Linked DNA regions of Homo sapiens: regions 2 and 3 are each linked to region 1. Evidence: fine-mapped QTL for protein levels in blood plasma. A gene starts in region 1. Each other region holds a variant in brackets. All regions are shown on one strand. Distances are between the middles of the regions.

Region 1 (6,818 bases):
TAGCTGGGTGCTTCACTTCAACTATCACCATGTCCTTCTGTCATATAGATAGGCAAAGTTTCTCTGTCCTCTGGATAAGGGCCAATTAACAAATCCAGAGAGTCTAGTCACATTAACTTTCCTTAACACCACTCAGTATCTTTTCCTTAGCAAACTCCACTTTAAAATGTCATCAGCTTTACTTTTGGGGAAGTTGAGTTCAGTTAATGCTGCACTGGTTCCTGTTGCAATAGTATTACTGAATAAAACCTGTCCTCACCACATTAACTAGTATCCAGATTTGTTGATCCTTGACAACACTCAGATGTCTCCTGCACTCTACTGGCTTCAAGGTCGGATAAATGAGTTGAACACCTCTTCAGTTTCCAGCAATGTTAGGTGTTTTCTATATTTCTTTGATTTGATCATTACTATGGAAACTGGAAGAGAGGGAAAAAAAATCAAACATCTAACATAATATTTCAGTCCCAACACCTTCCATAAGCTGTTCCTTGCAATATAAGTGTATGGAATGATGAAAGAGGCAGTGTAGCGTAACAGAAAAGACCACGAGTTTTGCAGCAAGAGTCAGCTTTGATTTGATTCCTTGCTCTAAATTTTTAAAATTAGCTTCTTAAACCTGAGAAAGAGGCTAAATTTTCTGTCTCATTTTTTCATTTGAAAATAGAAATAATAATGCCTACTATATAGACTTGGAAAAGTGAGATTGAACAAGAAAATATGTACAACATGTGGTACTTAGCTCATAGTAATTGTTCAATAAATGTTATTTTGTGTTAATATCTGATAATTCCCAAAGAGATTTGTTTTCTCTGTCTGTTGTTACAACAATGCATCTCCTCATGCCATCCCTCATTTACCTATCTATATATTTCCTTTATTAAGCAATGAGTTTCTTCATAGGTATCATTTTTCCTTGTATTGTAAGCTCCTACCAATTGAAAAGGTGGGCATCCAGTACCTGTTTATGTAATTTAAAAAATACATGAATAAATACATGAACAAAGTTATGGTAAACTTGGAGCACCAAAACTGAAATAGTTTGCATCGGTTAAATTAATTAATGTCAGACTTAGTTGTGAGAGTAATGAAGGCAGCATAAGACATTAATGTATGCATTTTTCTTACATTTGGTCTGAAACAAAGACTCATCTGCTATGCTGCCTTTTAGTTTTCCTGAGTCAGCAGTCTCAGAAACAGGATCTAAAGGTACAAATGGAAAATTACCACAGCATAGTTTCATTTCCTGCTCTTGAATATCTGGTTGAACTACTTAAGCTTAATTTGTTAAACTCCGGTAAGTACCTAGCCCACATGATTTGACTCAGAGATTCTCTTTTGTCCACAGACAGTCATCTCAGGAGCAGAAAGAAAAGAGCTCCCAAATGCTATATCTATTCAGGGGCTCTCAAGAACAATGGAATATCATCCTGATTTAGAAAATTTGGATGAAGATGGATATACTCAATTACACTTCGACTCTCAAAGCAATACCAGGATAGCTGTTGTTTCAGAGAAAGGTATATATATGTTTTTTCTAATGTGTGCCTTTAGCTCTCCCGTTTGAAAAGATATAAGGGGAGGCTAGGCATGGTGGCTCACACCTGTAATCCCAGCACTTTGGGAGGCCGAGGCGGGTGGATTGACTGAGGTCAGGAGTTCGAGGCCAGCTTGGCTAACGTGGTGAAACTCTGTCTCTACTAAAAATACAAAAATTAGCCGGGCATGGTGGTGCACGCCTGTAGTTCCAGGTACTTGGGAGGCTGAGGCAGGAGAATCACTTGAACCTGGGAGGTGGAGGTTGCAGTGAGCCAAGATCATGCCAATGCACTCCAGCCTGGGTGGCAGAGCAAGACTCCATCTCTGAAAAAAAATAAAAATAAAAACAAAACAAAAAGATATAAGGGGAGAAAATTTGAGAGCCTCGTGATGTGTATATTTTTATGGATATACTTTTAAAGGCTTCAGATGTCACTGAAGATAAATTGAATGCACCCTAAACCTTTTTTCATGAAAATTATTCAGTGACCAATTATTAGTGTTTAAATTAATTATGTCTGATGGCAGAAAATAGAATTTCTCTTTTCTATAGATATAGACATTTCATCAGTGAGGAATTGGTAATAAGTGGGATAATACACAAAGATAAAGGATTTCTGTATGAGTGACTTGTTGCTTGTTTGATAGAAAGGCTAGATTATCGAATGGAGGCCAGGAAACTTAAAGAAGTATATATATGAACAACATTTTTTTTTTGTGGTAAGAGATTAATTTAAATTGTTTTTAAACAAAAAACAATTATTGGTATACCAGTGATGGAAAATATATGAACATATGGTAGATAAAAACATCCCACCAGCAGGACATGAGTCTTAAACAAAGTGTAAATGAAATGAAATAGAAAGAAGGGCATTGGAGGATCTCTGTATTCATAGAATGGGTGATTTAGCCTACTCTACGATTCTCCTATGTGACAATTCTATGAAATGTCCTGACAGCTTAGTCACAGTGGAAAGCAGAAATACATTCTGGTTATGGCAATGTTCATACAAAATTAGTTCCCTATTATCTTTGAGAGAGAGAGATCATTTGTCGGTTTTGACACCAGAGTTTGCTTTCTTCTGCTTTCTGGTTATTCACACTGCACAAATATTTTCCTCTCAGCACTGATGTAATTCTTTTCTTGGGCAACCTATTGAGGAAGCGTGGAAAAAGTGGATGAGGCAAGAGGTAGGGAGACATGCGCATGTTTATGCATATGTGTAGGCAAACGGTATCCTGCAACAACACACCTATCATGTGCTAGCAGTCTCTAAACAAGGTGCTTTTATATGTGTTAGCTCGTTTAATTCCCGCAATAATCCTTTGAGATATTATTACCCCAGTTTCACAAAGAGGAATAAAAAACAACAAAGGGAGTAATTTGCCCAGGGTCATGCAACAAACATATGAAAAGGGAAAATTACCCTTAGTAATCAGTGCTATCTCCCCAACATTAAGCTATTTCCTCTAAGAATCAGTGGGATTTCAGGGATCCTACTAATGTCAAGACCTGTAGATGTCAATGTGGAACTGAAATTAGGAGCATACAGTTATCAAGCCAATGTGCCGAAATTACAATTCCAGCAATTGAAGAAGAAGGTATCCTTACTGGTGGAGAAGCACAGCAAATCCTAGGTGACCAGGTAACCTAGGCAGTGATTAATAATTCACTTAAAAATTTGCCAGTATTTTTTGTTGTTGTTGTTGGTGGTGTGTGTGTGTGTGTGTGTGTGTGTGTGTGTGTGTGTGTTTTAACAGGGTATCACTTTTTTGCCTATGCTGCTCTGGAATTCCTAGGCTCAAGTGATCCTCCTGCCACAGCCTCCAGAGTAGCTGGGACTACGGGAGCTCACCACAATGCCCAGCTAATTAAATTTTTTTTCTTTCTTTGTTTTTCTTTTTTTTTTTTGGTAGGGACAGGGTCTCCCTGTGTTGCCCAGGCTGGTCTTGAGCTTCTGGCCTCAAGCAATCCTCCTACCTCAGTCTCCCTTCTGGGATTACAGGTGTGAGCCACCGTGCAAGGCCAGATTTTTGATGAACTGTAGAATTAAACTGCCCCACCATCCGTCATTCTCTTTCTTTATTCCATTTCTGCCCCCTCTGGCTCCTCAGGATCGTGTGCTGCATCTCCTCCTTGGCGCCTCATTGCTGTAATTTTGGGAATCCTATGCTTGGTAATACTGGTGATAGCTGTGGTCCTGGGTACCATGGGTGAGTATTTGGTGGAGGAGATTAACAACAGACAATTTAGTAAGCAATTATTATGTGCCAGGCACTCTTTTAAGGGCTTGACATGCATAATCTACTTTAATTTGTATATAATCTGGTTTTATCTGTATTGGGTTGGTGCTGTTAATGCCCATTTCACTTATAAAGGGTGTGAGAGACTGAGAGGTTATTTTACCTTTCCAGGGTTATAAGCTAGTTAGTGGTGGGACCATGATTAGAAATTTGGGTGATCTGTCTAAAAAACTCATACTCTTAACTACATTGCTCTCCTACCTCCCTTACATAGCTGGTTTCAAAGCTGTGGAATTCAAAGGATAAATTAATGAAGAAAACAAGCGGAGCTGAAGAAGAAAGTACAATATGGTGCTGTCTTCCTAATGAAATAAATTCACTAAATGGACATTAAGCTATTTTTATGATTCACATTATTTAAGGAAATTATTTCCGATCTTTAATATAAACACCTTTGAATACACCAGAAATTTCCTGAGGCACTTGGTCTTAAGTCGATATTTTGTAATGGATTAATATTTTTTTTACATTTTATATCACATGCAATCTGTTGTCAGTCACCTTCAGAGAGTCTTCATGACATTCCTTAATTAGTCAAATGTTTATTGAGTGCGTTCTATGTTATAGGTACTGGGCAGTTTCTCAAGGATCTCTCATTTTTAAATAACAGAAGAAAGGTGAAAGATGTTGCTATTTCAAATCTGTCATGGGTCCAATTGACTCTATGACATTTGCCTCTTGCTGCCTCCCTCATTCTATTTCTTCTTCTCCACCTTCTTTTTTCTTTTCTTTTTTTTTTTTTACTATACCTCCTTTATAAAAGTTATGTATTTCTTTTCATCTATTCTATCAATCGTCTTTATCTCTCCACAGCAATATATCATCTATTTATCATTAATCAATAATGTATTCTTTTATTCCAATAACATTTGGGTTTTGGGATTTTAATTTTCAAACACAGCAGAATGACATTTTTTCTGTCACTATTATTATTGTTGGTATGTGAAGCTATTTGGAGATCCAATTCAGGAAGCAACACATTGGAGAATGGCTACTTTCTATCAAGAAATAAAGAGAACCACAGTCAACCCACACAATCATCTTTAGAAGACAGTGTGACTCCTACCAAAGCTGTCAAAACCACAGGCAAGGGCATAGTTAAAGGACGGAATCTTGACTCAAGAGGGTTAATTCTTGGTGCTGAAGCCTGGGGCAGGGGTGTAAAGAAAAACACTTAGATTCAATGATTGTAAATTTAAGGCAAATACACATATTAGTATTACCTTAGTGTAATGTATCCCTGTCATATATACAATAAGGTGAAATTATAAGTACCCTATGCAGTTGGCTGGACAGTTCTAAATTGGACTTTATTAATTTTTAAAATCAGTAACTGATTTATCACTGGCTATGTGCTTAGATCTACAGGAGATCATATAATTTGATACAAATAAAAGAAAAGTGTTCTCTCCCCTTACAGAATTGACATTTTAAATGCGATACAGTTAGAATAGGAAATATGACATTAGAAAGGAAGAATGACAGGGAGAAAGGAAAGAAGGGAAAATGTTGCCAAGAATAAGGAAGCTATATTAAAAATATACAAAAGAGGTAGACCTAATACACATGTCCCTGAAAACTCATCAAATTTGTTTAATCATACAATTTCATTTACTTAATTACAATTCTATACACACTTGACTTTTACTTCTAATTGCATCATAATTGACTATGACTTAATGTTTTCAGTTCAATTTTTCATCTCTGGACCCATACCTTCTCACTATTTTTATTAAGTAGCTAATAATATATAACAGAGATAGTGTATAATATGAATAATTGGCCTATACTTTTCTCACTTGGAAAGTCACATTATGAAGTAGATCTTACATCATAAAATAAGTAGCAATATGAAATTGCTGTGTACCTCAATGACTGATTGTGAGTGGACTTATTTTAAGGAGTTATTAAGGAGAAAGGTAGTTTTGAGCTGAATTAGAAGGAATAGAAGACAAGTGAAGAAAAAAAGGATGGTTGGCTGCCTAAAATACTATTTATAGCTAGTTTGTTTTTAAATTTTAAATGAATAGGAAGATTTTAATGTATTCTCATCTGTAAAATCATATCCCTGTAGTTCGAATTGACAATGAAATATAAAAATGGCAACTAATTGGTTATTTCATAAGTGTCCTTAAGATGAATGGTGTTCACACTAAAAGAGTGAATTGGTATGCTATGAACCTCATGGTACTAATCTTTTATTTCCAGGGGTTCTTTCCAGCCCTTGTCCTCCTAATTGGATTATATATGAGAAGAGCTGTTATCTATTCAGCATGTCACTAAATTCCTGGGATGGAAGTAAAAGACAATGCTGGCAACTGGGCTCTAATCTCCTAAAGATAGACAGCTCAAATGAATTGGTAAGTGTAGACTTCTGTTATGATTATCTGTGGTGTGTATCCTGAAGGAAGATAGAGGGAGATTCCAGGTAATGACAATTTTTCCTAAAATGAAGTCTTTTTTTTTTTTTTTTTTTGAGGCAGAGTCTCACTCTGTTGCCCAAGCTAGAGTGCAGTGAAGCCGCGACATCCCAGGCTCAAGTGATCCTCCCACCTCAGCTTCCTGAGTAGGTAGGACTACAGGGTGCACCACCACACTCGTCTAATGTTTTTTTGTATTTTTCATAGAGACGAGGTTTCTCCATATCATCTGGGCTGGTCTCAAAATCCTGGGCACAAGCGATCTGCCTACCTCGATCTCCCAGTGTTGGGATTACAGGTGTAAGCCACCATACTTGGCCAAAATTCATTTTTAATATCTCTATAATTATAATCATAGCATGCCTTAAGCACATAAAGTGCATAGTATATGCTTTTATTTTTAACTAATTTAAAAAACTGTGTTTCGCCTTAAAACAAATCCTTTCAAACATACTCCATGTATGCATGACTACAATAATCAGGACACTACCCATTTTTGTGAGTTTGTATTTCAATTTTTAAATATGGTGGAAGTAAAGTAGAAAATTCTTCTCC
Region 2 (8,196 bases), 58 kb after region 1:
TCTATGTTAAAATATTAGGAGTGCACTGAGCCTGGGGAGGTTGAGGCTGCAGTGAGCTATGATCGTGCCACTGCACTCCAGCCTGGGCAACAGAGTGAGACCCTGTCGCCACCAATCCTCCAAAAATATCTATTAGGAGTGCAGAGTGAGACTAGATAGAAGTAAGTAAACAACTTTTAAAATGTAAACATATGTTAAATATGGATATTGGGAAAAGGATTACCATGTATAGGACTATACACATGTGTGCACATAAATATTTATAGATAGAAATTTAAAAATTTCTTTCTTCTCTTCCTAGTCTAAGACATAAATCATCCTTGCAAATTTTTCTTTTACTTTTTTTCTTCCTTTCCCAGGTATTTATAACGGTTACTACCTCATTCCTGCACTTTTCCCTCCATATTCTTCCATGTCCCAGAATCATTCTGCATCTCTTTGTTAGTCTTTCCCTCATATTTTTATGTCAACATTAATGTTTAATTCTGTGCCTTAAAAGCCATGGGTCAGGAACAAATCTTGGTTGATGTGATTTCCGCTTTCAGAATATCGACATGTGTTCCATATTTACTAAGACAAAATAAGTTATTAAACCTGGACAAATTTCTGACTGGCCTCAGCATAGATGCTTTTTCTCTTAAGCATATGAGCATCAATGTGAAGCAGGACTTGTGTGTGCTTTGAGAAAAGTGCTGGCTGGCCCATGCATGTCTGTACATGTGAGTAATCATGCCACCAAAGCTAAAGCTTTTCTTATGTGCTTTTCACAGGAATTTGCCGCGTCTCAGAGCTACTCTGAGTTTTTCTACTCTTATTGGACAGGGCTTTTGCGCCCTGACAGTGGCAAGGCCTGGCTGTGGATGGATGGAACCCCTTTCACTTCTGAACTGTAAGCCTTCAGGATATTTTATGGGAAAGGCATTTAACAAAGATATTTTGCTTGAGTGATAGAGCTCAAGAATTTGGTCCATCAAGTATTAATCAAACTTCTGCTTTGTACTGGATACTGTGTTTGCAGGAGGATGCCTGAAGATATTTGAACAATAGTGCATCCTCATTTTGTTTGTGTGTGTGTGTGTGTTTGTTCGTTTGATTGTTTTTTGAGATAGGGTCTTGTTCTGTTGCATGGGCTGGAGTGCAGTGGTGCAAGCTCTGCTCACTGAAACCTCTGCCTCCCAGGCTCAAGCTCTCCTCTCACCTCAGCCTTCTGAGTAGCTCGGACTACAGGCGTGCACCACTACATGCAGCTAATTTTTTGTCTTTTTTGGAAAGACAGGATTATGATGTGTTGCCCAGTCTTGTTTAGAACTCCTGGACTCAAGTGATTTGCCCATCTTGGCCTCCCAAAGTGCTGAGATTACAAGCATGAGCCACCGCACCCGGCCAGTGCCTGCTTTTGAACTGCTTATAAGCCAGTGAGGGAGACAGATACATAGCATTAGTAAAATATCAGGGTAGTTCTCTTGCTGCTTTCAGAAGTTTGTGTCTGGGACATACTGCAGATGAGAGAAGGGAGAGACAGAGAGAGAGAGAGAGAGAGAGAGAGATCTTTCCCTGAGTGAGTAAATTGAAGCCCAGGAGTCCAGGCTGTAATGGTGGTTGCCTAAAGTCACACAACTTGTCAGTACCCAGAGATAGCATAAGAGTTCTTGGCTTTCTGTGCAGCAAAATAGGGAGCACATCTTTTAAAAAACACAATCTCTGAGAAAAGATTTGCTGAAAATGTAAGGGGTAATATAAAACACTAGTCGTACATATGCTGTGAGCATTTAGACAGGAGTACATATGGTATCTGTGTTAGTCCATTTTTGCATCAGCATAAATGAATGCCTGAGGTTGGATAGCTTATAAAGAAAGGAGGTTTAATTGGCTCACAATCCTGCAGGCTGTACAAGCATCTGCTTGGCTTCTGAGGAGGCTTCAGGGAGCTTTACTCATGGCAGAAGGCGAAGCAAGAGCTGGCATGTCCAATGGCAAGAGAGAACACAAAAGAGAAGGGGCTGGGGGGAGGTTCCAGGCCCTTTTAAGCCACCAGATCTTGCATCAACTAACTGAGTGAGAACTCACTCATCACCAAGAAGAGGGCACCAAGCCATTCATGAGGGATCCACCCCGATGACCCGAACACCTCCCACCAGGCCCCATCTCCAACACTGGGGATAACATTTCAACTAAGATTTGGAAAGAACACACATCCAAACCACATCAGTATCCTTTGAAAGAGGAAATTGTAATTTCTCTATCAAAATATATCACATTTAAAGCCATATTTGAACAGACACCATTCTTCCCTATATACAATATATCATTATTCTCCCAGGAGACAGGATATATTTGATGTAATCATTTGTATTTTACAGTTAAGTAAACTGAGTTACAGAGAAGGTAGAGAACTTTTTAAGTGGCAGAAACACTATATAAATTTGGAGGAGAACACGTAGCTTCGCTTTAGTTAGAAATGGTTTTTGCTGTTTGGGGTGACCTGCTGTTTCTAAGAATGAGTATGGAAACTTAGGGGCTGAAGAGAAAGAGGCACATGACCCCAGTTTCCCGGTAAACTTATTCTGGTATCTAGACTATAATTTTATAACTCTAGAAAGAATGGGTATTTAATATTTTATTTTAGAAATAAACCGTGATTGAATTTACTTTTTCTTCCTTTCTTAAGGTTCCATATTATAATAGATGTCACCAGCCCAAGAAGCAGAGACTGTGTGGCCATCCTTAATGGGATGATCTTCTCAAAGGACTGCAAAGAATTGAAGCGTTGTGTCTGTGAGAGAAGGGCAGGAATGGTGAAGCCAGAGAGCCTCCATGTCCCCCCTGAAACATTAGGCGAAGGTGACTGATTCGCCCTCTGCAACTACAAATAGCAGAGTGAGCCAGGCGGTGCCAAAGCAAGGGCTAGTTGAGACATTGGGAAATGGAACATAATCAGGAAAGACTATCTCTCTGACTAGTACAAAATGGGTTCTCGTGTTTCCTGTTCAGGATCACCAGCATTTCTGAGCTTGGGTTTATGCACGTATTTAACAGTCACAAGAAGTCTTATTTACATGCCACCAACCAACCTCAGAAACCCATAATGTCATCTGCCTTCTTGGCTTAGAGATAACTTTTAGCTCTCTTTCTTCTCAATGTCTAATATCACCTCCCTGTTTTCATGTCTTCCTTACACTTGGTGGAATAAGAAACTTTTTGAAGTAGAGGAAATACATTGAGGTAACATCCTTTTCTCTGACAGTCAAGTAGTCCATCAGAAATTGGCAGTCACTTCCCAGATTGTACCAGCAAATACACAAGGAATTCTTTTTGTTTGTTTCAGTTCATACTAGTCCCTTCCCAATCCATCAGTAAAGACCCCATCTGCCTTGTCCATGCCGTTTCCCAACAGGGATGTCACTTGATATGAGAATCTCAAATCTCAATGCCTTATAAGCATTCCTTCCTGTGTCCATTAAGACTCTGATAATTGTCTCCCCTCCATAGGAATTTCTCCCAGGAAAGAAATATATCCCCATCTCCGTTTCATATCAGAACTACCGTCCCCGATATTCCCTTCAGAGAGATTAAAGACCAGAAAAAAGTGAGCCTCTTCATCTGCACCTGTAATAGTTTCAGTTCCTATTTTCTTCCATTGACCCATATTTATACCTTTCAGGTACTGAAGATTTAATAATAATAAATGTAAATACTGTGAAGTGTGTGTGATTTTACAATGGACTTATGGTTGGTGGGAAAATTCAGCATGGAAATGCTTTTCAAAATATGATAGCGGTCATTATTTTGATTGTGCCTTACTGAAAGTTTTTGGGGAATTTACAAGAGTACTGATTACATGATTATCTGGAGAAAATAAGATGTCTTTGAAATACGTGTTGGCTTCAAGAAAACAGTTTTAACGTTTTCCTAAAATGAAATCTTTTGAGGTGAGCTTATGGCATCAACACATGGTTGATGAGGAAGCTGAGTTGCATTAGTGCACATGATTTCC[A/G]GTCAGGTCATGGGAAATGAACAGAGACAGTGACATCTTTGTAGCTGCTCCTTTGTGAGGCACTTCTTTCTTGAGACGACTCCATGCACAAATATAACAGGGATCATTGGGAATGACACCATCACAGCCACCAAGTTTATTGGTTTACTGATAAATCAATTTTGAGGGTTTTATGCTAGAAAAGATAACATTATAAATCTTTGTTTTTCAACAGTGGAAACTGAGGTGCTTCAGTTTTGTTTTTCATAAACATCTATCTCATGGTAAAATGACGTATAGTAGCAATCATATGATAGAAAGAACACATTGGTGCTCATTTTCATAAACTTCATTTTGTTAGATTGTCACTTAGCAAAGACTATTGCGGATTCTTCCTTGAGAACTTTCCTTTCAATTTTCTGTTGATTTCCTTAAAATTTTCTTCAGGGTCGAGCAAGTTCTGTTGATATATTGTGTCATGCAAAGAAAACTGTATTTGTGGTTAGAAAATGAAGATTTTAGACCTCTTATTCTGATTTACTTATTAGGCAAGTCACTTTACTTCATGAAACCTATTTCACTGCATATGAAGTAGAAATAATTATAATTTCCTCATAATGTTACTGTTAGCTGAAATAAAGTAAATGTGAAATCAGTTTCATAATGTGAACTGCAATAAAAAATGTAAGGGAAGTCAAGAAAATATTTTTAAAAGGATCTAGTGATTTATTTTTAAATATAGGGGCGCACATACACATGCATAAGCAATGTTAAAAAGAAAAAAACTTCAGCTCAATTAAATTTAAAAGAGTTTAATTGAGCAATGACTCATTCACAAATCAGGCAGCCTCCAGAGCCAGAGTAGACTCAGAGGCTCCAGTGCAGCCATGTGGTGGAAGAAGATTTATGGACAGAAAAAGGAAAACGTAGTAAAGAAAACGGAAGTGAGGTACAGAAAAAGCTGGATTGCTTACAGCTCGGAGTTTGCCTTATTTGAACACAATTCAAACAGTTGGCTACATTTGATTGGCCAAAGCACAGTGATTGGCACAAGTATAGACTAGGGTCTGTTTACCCCTCAACTTGTTATAGTTGACATTATGTACAGAGAATCCTTTAAGCTAAACTTAAAATACGTAAAAAGGCAGCGTTAGGCTAAACTTGATTTATTAATAACAACAAACTTCTTTGGAAATCTGTATTTATGAACAAATTGTAGAAGGGCACCTACTTTGGGGAGCTAAGGATTTTATTACCAAATATTTTTGATGATGAGTGCAGATTTTCGATGAAAGTAGTTCATATAATAGGTACATAACAAGAAATGAGAAGTAAGCCTGCAGTTAAGCAATTGTTATGTAAGCCTTGTTGCTACAGAAAGAAAATATGACTGATAGGAGGAAGTCAAATGATTTTGTGGACTAAGCTGTAAAACAGAGACATGCACTCATTTAAGTTTTGACTCCTAGCATCCTATGTGGCTGCAGTCTAGCTCAGGGATGGATGACAAGCCACTCTTTAAGTGCCATTGATGTGAAGGGTCTAGCTGCCTAGAGTGAGTTTTGAATGGTATGTCATTCCAAGTCTGGGACTAAGGGATAGTGTCACTTTAGATTGTGAGGAGGAAAAAATAGCATACATTTGACATACTTCAGCTCCTTCCCTGAGTTTATTCTTCATGTTTCCCCTTAATCCCTTTGTCTTTATAGCAAAACTCACAATATTGATCACAATGTGAACAAACATTTCAAAACAACAGAAAAAAGTGTATAGCATAGCATTCTCACTACACACTTTAGAAAAATGATATTAAGAATAGGACATAATGATAAAGTGAATTTTAAAATCTGATTTGCTAAGAACAATATCCAGTTGAGAATCAGAGAGGGGCACTGTATGAACTGGTTTTTCTGGATGAGGAGACTTTTTTCTTTCTAGGTTCTTGTTTATGTAATTCTGAAGAAATTGCAGGAACAGTCAAACGAGGAGCCCAGCCTTTCCTGGTAGAGCTGAGATCTCCGGTACACAATAAGCTCTTTCTTTTCCTGAGGATATTGAACCAGCTTTCAGGATTTATCAACAGGAAACAGGTCATGAGCCCTGTAACAGCAGGAAGTGTGAGAAGAGTAACGGGGAGCTTTTATTTTGAGGATACAAACACATTATGAACAAGGAGAAAAGTCTAGTAGGTTAGCAGGTTGTCTCTGGGCCAGCTTTAATATTTGGGAGTCAACTCCTCTGTAGAGAGATTCTTACAGTATTTGAAGATTACAAACAAATCAGGATCCTCTGATTTAAAGTCTGCGTGACTTTTGTACACGCTTCATTATATGAATAGATTTTTAGGCTCGAATAGTATCTACTATTATTCTACCAATATTATTATGTATACTTTTTATACATTTAATGTACTTTAACCAAACATGTAAAAAAACTCTTCACATTTGCAGGATAGTTTTATTTTTAGTTTTCTTTTCGTTTGTTTAAGACTAACTTAGAACTCAATGAAAGAGATCTAAGATGCCCAATTCATTGTTGGTGGGACTAGGATATAAGACTGGCATACTCAGTGTTGTATCTGAAAAGCCTTGGTATCCTGGACCAAAAGCAACCTGCAGAGAAGAATCACCCAACTATAGCATCTGTGTGGAAAGTAGCATCGCTGCTGAGGAGATTTGTAGGAGCTGAAGTCAGCTGCGCTGTAGATAAATTCTAATTTGAAAATACTGCATCATACACTACGGGATGACATCAGCTGAAGGATGTTTGCCTTTTGCTTTATTGTACTTCTTAAAGAATGATTATAAGTGCTTCGTATCCTTCCTCTAAACATAGTTCCATGACAATACTTTGAAGAATCTTTAAGGCAAACAGTCTTTGCTAGTAAATTCCACTATTGTTTCTCCTTTATTCCAGGTTATTACATTCAGCTGCCAGCTGTCAGCTGTAAAAATCAAACACAGGAGACAATATATGCTGTGTTTTCTCTGCTATTCTCCTTTTTCAGGTTCTGCAGAAAATTAGAGAAAAATCTCTTTTACTTAAACTCCCACATTTAAACTCTAGGTCAAGGGTAAATAAACAAAAACATGCTCTTCTCATCCTTACACAACCTTACCCATTGTAAAAGGACATTTAGGTAAGAGGATATTTAGTTTCATTTAAATGATTTCCAGTGACTCAGAGAATTAGGTTTTTTTTTTACTTTATATATTTAAGTGATGCCTTTATGCTTAGGAAGAAAAGATGATAATCTAATGAATCTCAGCTCCTCTTTATGAGAAATGAAGAATTAAATAAAATTATACTGAATTAAGCAAATATTTATTGAGAACCTACTATGTGGTACGGCGTTCTTGCAGGGACGTAAGTGGTAACAAGTAATATAATAATAATTAAAGAATCTGTTCTTTCTGTAGATCACAGGGTTCTTTGCTATTAATGGTCTCTAGGGAATAAGATAGTCCATGCTTCAGGGAGTCTACAGACTTAGGGCAGAGAATGTCTATAGATTTATTTGAGGAGAATCCATTAACTTTAAAGCAGATATTCTCTCCAGAGAGTTGCTGACATTTTACACATAAACTTTAACTTCTGAATATCCCTCCAAGAGGAGCAAAAAAAGGGATCATTTTTGCCTGGGATGCACAAATAAAGGTTGATGTGTATAGATGATTGGTGGTGTAGTCCAGAGAACAAAACCAAGCACTGATAGAGTGTTCAACTCTGTGCAAGACTATTCTCAGCACTGACATATATTTACAGTCTACTCCTCACACAATATTTTGGAGTAAGTTCTGCTGTTATTTTACAATGAGGCAATCGAGGCACTGAAAGACGTAATCAAAAGTGTTGGCGTGTTAACCCTGAGGGACCAGACCATGAGCCCTTTGGTTTGCGAATGCCAGGCATGGTCATTGAGAGGAAAGAGGGAATTCACAGAATTCTCTGGAGAACATTCTGATCCTGGCATCCTGACTATTCCTTCTGCTTATGTCAACTTCTAGTAGTTCATCTTTCTAGAAGAAATCAAATCTTAAAAAGTACATTGTCTTACAGGCTGCAGATAGAAGTCTGCCTTTCTTCCAGTTTGGAAATTCGTATCTCTGTTCTTCTATCAGTCTGATAACATAATGCCTGAAAGCCTAGAAAATGCATAGAAAGATCTCACAGACAGTGAGTTTTAAAGGCCAAATTTATTTATTTATTTTAAAAATATTAGT
Region 3 (8,164 bases), 9.5 kb after region 1:
CTCCACTAAAAATTTAGCCGGGTGTGGTGGCATTGCCTGAAATCCCAGCTACTCAGGAGGCTGAGGCAGGAGAATTGCTTGGACCTGGGAGACAGAGGTTGCAGTGAGCTGAGATTGCACCATTGCACTCCAGCCTGGATGACAGAGTGAGACTCCAGTGAGACTCCAACTCAAAAAAAAAAAAAAAAAAAAAGAAAAAAAGAAAGAGTGCTTTCCTCTTAGAATTGTGAGATGGGTATAAAAGTAAAATAATTTAGCACAGTGTCTTGTACATAGTTAATGTGTGAGACTTATTATTAAGTTAAAAAGCAACCACATTTTCACATTTTGCATTTTAGAAAGATATTTTAAACGTATTTCACATTTGCCTGATGATACATTATTCCTTATTATGTGGTTTCTGTCACTGCTGTTGTCATTCATTTGCTTTTTAATATCTGCAGAATATGAAATATGTCTCTTTTAAGTTCTTATTATTAGTGTGTGTGTGCACACCTGTGTGTGTTTTTTCATCTGTCTCAGTAGGAGTACCGTTCAATTTGGTTTTTCAAAGAAAGTAACTTTTGACTTTGTTGACTCTGTCTTTTTATTATTTCTTTCATTAACTTTTATTCTAATCTGTATTACTTCCTTCCATCTAATTTATTTTTATTTTATTTTGTTTTATTTTTTGAGACAGAGTCTCACTCTGTCACCCAGGCTGGAGTGCAATGGCGATCTCGGCTCACTGCCAGCTCCGCCTCCCGGGTTCACGCCATTCTCCTGCCTCAGCCTCCTGAGTAGCTGGGACTACAGGCGCTCACCACCATGCCCGGCTAATTTTTTGTATATTTAGTAGAGACGGGGTTTCACCGTGTTAGCCAGGATGGTCTCGATCTCCTGACCTAATTTATTTGTTTTAAATTTGCTATTCCATCTCAAACTTCTCGTATTGGGTGCTTGCCTCATGAATTTAAGCCTTCCTTTATCTCAAGTATGTAGACTTAAGGCTATAATTTTAATGTATTTTCATTGTCTTTCAGTTCAAAATACTTTCTGATTTCCACTGTGAGCTGCTCTTTGACCCAGGAGTTATTTAGAAATGCATTTCTTAATTTACAAACATATGTGTTTCTGGTTATCTCTTTGTTTTAGGTTTCAGGCTTAGTTCCACTGTGATCAGAGAACATGCTCCACGTGCTTGTAGTTCTGTGATTTTTACGTGCTTCTTCCTCTTTCCATATGAAAAGAATTGTGTTGAAATCTTCCGCTGCGATTCTACTTACAGTTCTGTAAACATTTTATTCGATGTGTTGAAGCCGTGTTATCAGGCACATAAAGATTTAGAATTGTTACTTTTTTTCCCCTTTCTTTCCTCCTTTTTGGACGATTTAACACTTTTTCTTATTCTGTTTTTTTTTTCTGTTCATTTGGAATGTGCTCTTTCATGTCTTTTACATCTCTTTTACTAATCTTTTAGTAGTTGTTCTAGGAATTACACATGTATACTTCACTCATCAAAGACTAACATTAACTGACATTTTTATGTTCTTCCTGACCAATATAAAAATCATAGAGCATTCCTTTACTCTGTTGACTCTCTCCTCAATTTATATGCTATTATATTAATGTATTTATTTTTATTTATTTATTTTTATTTTATCGCCCAGGCTGGAGTGCAGTGGGGCAATCTTGGCCTACTGCAACCTCTGCCTCCTGGGTTCAAGCGATTCTCCCACCTCAGCCTCCTGAGTAGCTGGGACTACAGCTATGCGTCACCAGCTGGGTGTGGTGGTGGACGCCTGTAATCCCAGCTACTCAGAGGTTGAGGCACCAGAATTGCTTCAACCCGGGAGACGGAGGTTGCAGTGAGCCGAGATCGCACCACTGCACTCCAGCCTGGGTGACTGAGCCAGACTCAGTATTAAAAAAAAAAAAAAAGAAAAAGAAAAAAGAAAAAACTAGCCCTTGGGCCGGGCGCGGGGACTCACGCCTATAATCCCAGCACTTTGGGAGGCCGAGGCAGGCGGATCACTTGATCTCTGGAGTTCGATACCAGCCTGGCCAAAATGGTGAAACCCCATCTCTACAAAAAAAAAAAAAAGATATAAAAATTAGACAGACAAGGTGGCGCACAGATTTATGCAGTTAGTATTCATTTCAATTTGCCCACATATTTATGATTTTAGTTGTTTATTTCTTTCTTCCTTTCCAACTGTACATTACAGGTATTTTTTCTTAAGACTGATATTTCCAGTAAGTATAGAATTAGAGGTTTGTTGTTTTTCCTCTCAGCCACTCAAATATATTATTCCACTGTTTTCTATTTTTTACTGTTGTTTTTGAGAGGTCATCTGTTTGAAGGTAATATATGTTTTAAAACTAATGTGTTTACTCAGCACTGAAAAATTCTCAGCCATACTTGCTTCATATTTTGCTTTTCCCCATCTTTTTTCCCTTCTCCTGGAATCCCAGTTACATTCATTACAGACCCATTGACACCATCCTATATGTTTCTTTTGCTTTTTCCTGTGTTTTCATTCTTTTTTAGCTTTTTGCTCCAATCTATGTAATAACCTTTCACATATCTTCCGGTCATCTATTTTTTCTCATCTGTGGCTAATCTACCATTAAAAGCCTCTATTAAGTCTTTTATTTTGTTTGGTGACATTTTCAGTTTTATAATTTTAGTTTAGTTCTTTCTCAAATCTATTATTTCAACACGTATACTTCTACTTTTTCTTCCAACATTCTTAGTATTGTCTTCTAACTTTCAGAATACACTAACCATAGTTGTTTTAGCTTGTGTCTGATAATTCCAATTTTCTATATGTATCTGTTTCTGTTTGTTTTTTTTTTTACTATTTTTCTTTTGTGTTGATTAGTTTTCTCTTATGTCAGATTGCTTTTTATAGTGTTGTTAACATTTTATCTTAAAATCTTTGTAGAATTAATTTGAAGTGTTTTTTCATTTGCCTCTGTTCTCACCACCAGGTCTGTTCACCCAATAGTGTGAACAGTACAAACTGCTGAGCATAATCACTTAACTGTTTTACTTCTACTAGGCTAAGTACAGTGAATTTATTATCAGCCAAATGTATTTTCTACTTTCTTATAGTACTTGTTTGTCTTGAGTTTTCTCTTGCTATTTTAAATGTATGACTAGAGGACTCTTTCTATAATCACAAGTGGGCCCAAGTTAACATTTTGATATGTTACTACTTTTTTGTTTTCCGGGTGGCATTTATTTAATCTAGCTGTGTCTATGCCCCCAAAACACTTATAGGTCAAGGAAAATTTTTAAGGAATAATGCTGGTCAGAGTTCTCCCTGAGGTCTGAATCTAAGTAGTTAATCTTAGCCTTAGTCATCGCTAAAGCAAAGTTTTCTCAATCTTCCAACCTCAGGGTCAAGAGGGAGAGATACATAACCAGGACAAAGAGTGCCAAGTCATAGCTTTTGCACTGACGGTCAGTGATGCTCTTTGAGCTTGACTCATTAACACTGCTACTTAAGGAGATTGAAGACCAAACTGAACAGGACCATGCCTGCATTTAGCAGTGTTGATTTCCATAACTGTCAAGCATTGTATTGTAATATAATTCTGCTTCCAGGATACATTAAAATATACAGAGTTGTTTGCCCTGCCTTTAAATGGCCTGGGCATCTCTGATTCTCTTTTTAGTTCTAGATCTGTTTTAGCATTAATGCTTCTGCTTGGTCTACTCATTAAGTATATCCAGTAATAATTTAATTAAACTGTTACTTGATTTGATAAAGAAACATTTAAGTAATAGGCTGAAAGATATATAAAGAACTTTTTATAGAATATTAAATGATTTTTCTTCTTTGTCAGGAACTTTTTTTTTAGTTTATGCAGCTAGTAGCAGTTCTTGAAAAAAAATTAAGTCGTTTTTCTGCCTTAATAATGGAGACTATTCATTTAACCACTTGAGATTCACAACAATTTAGATTTAAGCCTCCTTTTCCAATAATAGAAACACTTCAGAACTCTTTTCACCAATATCCTTACTAATTTATTTGTGCGCCATGTAGACAGTATTCCTTAACATTTGTTCTAATTACCTCACTGTATTCTATTTTAACAGATTTCAGATCAGAACCACAGCTACCCAAGAAAACCCATCTCCAAATTGTGTATGGATTCACGTGTCAGTCATTTATGACCAACTGTGTAGTGTGCCCTCATA[T/G]AGTATTTGTGAGAAGAAGTTTTCAATGTAAGAGGAAGGGTGGAGAAGGAGAGAGAAATATGTGAGGTAGTAAGGAGGACAGAAAACAGAACAGAAAAGAGTAACAGCTGAGGTCAAGATAAATGCAGAAAATGTTTAGAGAGCTTGGCCAACTGTAATCTTAACCAAGAAATTGAAGGGAGAGGCTGTGATTTCTGTATTTGTCGACCTACAGGTAGGCTAGTATTATTTTTCTAGTTAGTAGATCCCTAGACATGGAATCAGGGCAGCCAAGCTTGAGTTTTTATTTTTTATTTATTTATTTTTTTGAGATAGGGTCTCACTTTGTTACCCAGGCTGGAGTGCAGTGGCACAATCTCGACTCACTGCAGCTATCTCTCGCCTCAGCCCCTCAAGTAGCTGGGACTACAGGTGCATGCCACCATGCCAGGCTAATTTTTGGTGTTTTTTGTAGAGACTGGGTTTTGCCATGTTGACCAAGCTGGTCTCTAACTCCTGGGCTTAAGTGATCTGCCCGCCTTGGCCTCCCAAAGTGCTGGGATTACAGATGTGAGCCACCACACCTGGCCCCAAGCTTGAATTTTCATTCTGCCATTGACTTGGCATTTACCTTGGGTAAGCCATAAGCGAATCTTAATTTCTGGCTCTATCAGAGTTGTTTCATGCTCAACAATGCCATTGAAGTGCACGGTGTGTTGCCACGATTTGACCCTCAACTTCTAGCAGTATATCAGTTATGAACTGAGGGTGAAATATATTTCTGAATAGCTAAATGAAGAAATGGGAAAAAATCTTCACCACAGTCAGAGCAATTTTATTATTTTCATCAGTATGATCATAATTATGATTATCATCTTAGTAAAAAGCAGGAACTCCTACTTTTTCTTTATCAATTAAATAGCTCAGAGAGTACATCTGCCATATCTCTAATAGAATCTTTTTTTTTTTTTTTTTTTTTGAGACAGAGTTTCGCTCTTGTTGCCCAGGCTGGAGTGCAACGGCACGATCTCGGCTCACCGCAACCTCCGCCCCCTGGGTTCAAGCAATTCTCCTGCCTCAGCCTCCCAAGTAGCTGGGATTACAGTCAGGCACCACCACACCCGGCTAATTTTGTATTTTTTTAGTAGAGACAGGGTTTCTCCATGTCGGTCAGGGTAGTCCCGAACTCCTGACCTCAAGTGATCTGCCTGCCTCGGCCTCCCAAGTGCTGGGATTACAGGCGTGAGCCACTGCACCCAGCCTAGAATCTTGTATAATATGTAATTGTAGGGAAACTGCTCTCATAGGAAAGTTTTCTGCTTTTTAAATACAAAAATACATAAAAATACATAAAATCTGATGATGAATATAAAAAAGTAACCAACCTCATTGGAACAAGTATTAACATTTTGGAATATGTTTTATTAGTTTTGTGATGTACTGTTTTACAATTTTTACCATTTTTTTCAGTAATTACTGTAAAATGGTATTATTGGAATGAAACTATATTTCCTCATGTGCTGATTTGTCTTATTTTTTTCATACTTTCCCACTGGTGCTATTTTTATTTCCAATGGATATTTCTGTATTACTAGGGAGGCATTTACAGTCCTCTAATGTTGATTAATATGTGAAAAGAAATTGTACCAATTTTACTAAATTATGCAGTTTAAAATGGATGATTTTATGTTATGTGGATTTCATTTCAATAAAAAAAAACTCTTATCAAAAAACCCATGGCCTCTAAATTATGTGCCTGTGTGTCACAATCACTATTACAATTTGCCCTCTCCCCAAAAATGATGATGAATTTGGTATGGGTGGAGTGGATATTTATAGTAGATATTTTGATATTAAAGCATTAATTCGCGATCTTAAAAATTTTAAAAACCTAAGAGAAGATAAAGATCTTTGTGAGGTTTACTATTGTTGTTTAATATGCAAATTTGTTTTCATTACTTAAAAACATGTAGAAAGGGAAGAGATAGATAGGTGCAGCAAACCACCATGGCACATATATACCTATGTAACAAATCTGCACGTTCTGCACGTGTATCCCAGAACTTAAAGTACAATTAAAAATACATACATAAATAAATAAATGATGTAATGTATAATAAACATAAAAAAAGAAAGGGAAGAGATAGATCAGGCTGAGAACATGAGGAGTATGGTTAACTGTTTTAAGTAGTTAAAGCATAGGATGGAGTTTGGAAGAGATATCTAGTATTTTAATTTTGGTTTTGTTTTGATTCATTCCTCCTGGGTCCCCAGGATATAGTGGATGACTCCAAGAAATTATGGTAATCAAGGTAAATAACTGGATGCTGAAGATCCAGCTGTACTAATCTAGTGAACAGACAGGCCAGGCAACCTAACCCATGACGTGGGTATCACGAAAGTGACGGTGTAAAGTAAGATTGCTCTACGTTGTGCAAGACATACAGTACCTGACCTGTTGAGACACGTTTATATCACAGCTTATATGGAAATATACGTTAATAAACAGAAAACATCCACCCTTTTCCAAGAGACAGAAAACATCCACACTTTTCCAAGAGACAGAAAACATCCACACTTTTCCAAGAGACAGAAAAGGTGAAATAGCTGCTAGCCGAACCTCAGTCTGAAAGTTAAATTCGAGATGAGTAATGGTCACACCAGAGGACATGCTCAGGGGCCACCATGTTCACTTGTTTGGCTTATAGCAATAATTTTTGAAGTCGTCTCTGAGCCTTCACCCTCACCCTCTACAGTCTATTTTCAAACAAATCAGAGTGAGACCATTAAATTTAAATAAAATCATGTCGGTTCTCCACTTAAAATTCTCATCAACTTCTCATGTATCTCAGAGTAAAAACAAAGCAACATAAAAAAGAAATACCTTTGTAATTATCTATAAGACGCTACATATTCTGGCCCTCTTAACTTTGAGCTAATCTCCTACTTCCTTCATCTTTACTCACCGCACTCAGGACGCCGGCTTCTCTGTTGTTTCTCAACCATGTCAGGCGTGCTTCCACCTCAAGGTATTGGTGATTCTTATCTGCTTTACCTGAATGATCCTTTTATTTTTTTGAGACGGAGTCTCGCTCTGTGGCCTAGGCTGGAGTGCAGTGGCGCGATCTCTGCTCACCGCAAGCTCCGCCTCCCGGGTTCCCGCCATTCTCCTACCTCAGCCTCCCGAGTAGCTGGGATTACAGGCGCCCGCCATCACGCTTGGCTAATTTTTTTTTGTATTTTTTAGTAGAGACGGAGTTTCACTGTGTTAGCCAGGATGTTCTGGATCTCCTGACCTCATGATCCGCCCGCCTCGGCCTCCCAAAGTGCTGGGATTACAGGCGTGAGCCACCGCGCCCGGCCTGAATGATTCTTACCCGACAAAGCTGCAGGGCCTGGCCTCTCACCTCGTTTCCATCTCTGCACAAACATGACCTTCTTAATGATGCTTACTCACATAACTATTTAAAGTTACCAACCCTTTTTCCCTACATTCTTCATCTCCCTTACCTCTGTTTATTTACCATAGCATTTATTATAGTCTAATATACTCTACTATTTACTTATTAGGTTGGTGCAAAATTGCGGTTTTTGCCATTGAAAGTATATAGGATAAAAGTAATGGCAAAAACCGCAATTACTTTTGCACCAGCATGATACTTATTCTCTTTCTTGTATATTGTCTTCCTCTTTCTTATCTATCTGTTTCTTATATATCGTCTGCCTTTCTCCGTAGAATATAGTCTCTAAAAGGACAGACAGCTTTGCTGTACATGGATGTATCCAACAGTCTGAGAATAGTACTTGCCATACAGTCGATAGTCAAAAATATTTTTTGAAAAAAAAATAAGCTTTTAAGGAAAAGTAGTATAAATGTTAATGTAGGTTTTTTATCAAAAATTATTAGGAATATACTTGAATAACTGAAGCTTGGGAAATAGTTCTAATTGCTATTTTATGAGAATCATAATTACAGGCACCTTCTAAGTGCCTTTT

Alleles and levels. Positions count from the first base shown, and alleles are read on the strand shown. Strength reflects both the effect of a copy and how common the allele is. Not every link is listed here.
For the plasma level of the protein whose gene starts at base 1,301 in region 1, allele T in region 3 goes with a higher level than allele G (strong association).

Evidence for each region. PIP is the chance, under the fine-mapping model, that this variant and not a neighbour inherited with it causes the effect. Protein levels are from antibody-based Olink assays in UK Biobank. Linkage for the fine-mapping came from a reference panel and not from the study's own genotypes, which makes the PIPs less certain.
Region 2: its variant is fine-mapped to the plasma level of the CLEC7A protein (UK Biobank, PIP above 0.99).
Region 3: its variant is fine-mapped to the plasma level of the CLEC7A protein (UK Biobank, PIP 0.93). The variant lies in the coding sequence of CLEC7A. If it changes the protein, the assay may bind it differently, which can mimic a change of level.

Annotation. Positions count from the first base shown.
Region 1 is chr12:10,124,682-10,131,499 of GRCh38, reverse strand. It overlaps CLEC7A (C-type lectin domain containing 7A), which reads left to right and starts at 1,301. Exons shown (of 6, transcript NM_197947.3): 1 at 1,301-1,520; 2 at 3,655-3,753; 3 at 4,792-4,929; 4 at 6,052-6,203. The coding sequence starts at 1,418. LOC105369655 (a long non-coding RNA gene) reads right to left here. Exons shown (of 4, transcript XR_007063208.1): 2 at 260-419.
Region 2 is chr12:10,065,986-10,074,181 of GRCh38, reverse strand. It overlaps CLEC1A (C-type lectin domain family 1 member A), which reads left to right. Exons shown (of 6, transcript NM_016511.4): 5 at 771-889; 6 at 2,669-4,628. The coding sequence ends at 2,849. It overlaps CLEC9A (C-type lectin domain containing 9A), which reads right to left. Exons shown (of 9, transcript NM_207345.4): 9 at 8,151-8,196. Among named protein-coding and RNA genes, the nearest start is that of CLEC1A, 29 kb to the left of the region's middle. The variant A/G (reference allele first, on the strand shown) is at 3,995.
Region 3 is chr12:10,114,514-10,122,677 of GRCh38, reverse strand. CLEC7A (C-type lectin domain containing 7A) reads left to right here. Exons shown (of 6, transcript NM_197947.3): 6 at 4,088-5,901. The coding sequence ends at 4,220. LOC105369655 (a long non-coding RNA gene) reads right to left here and starts at 7,315. Exons shown (of 4, transcript XR_007063208.1): 1 at 7,135-7,315. The variant T/G (reference allele first, on the strand shown) is at 4,190.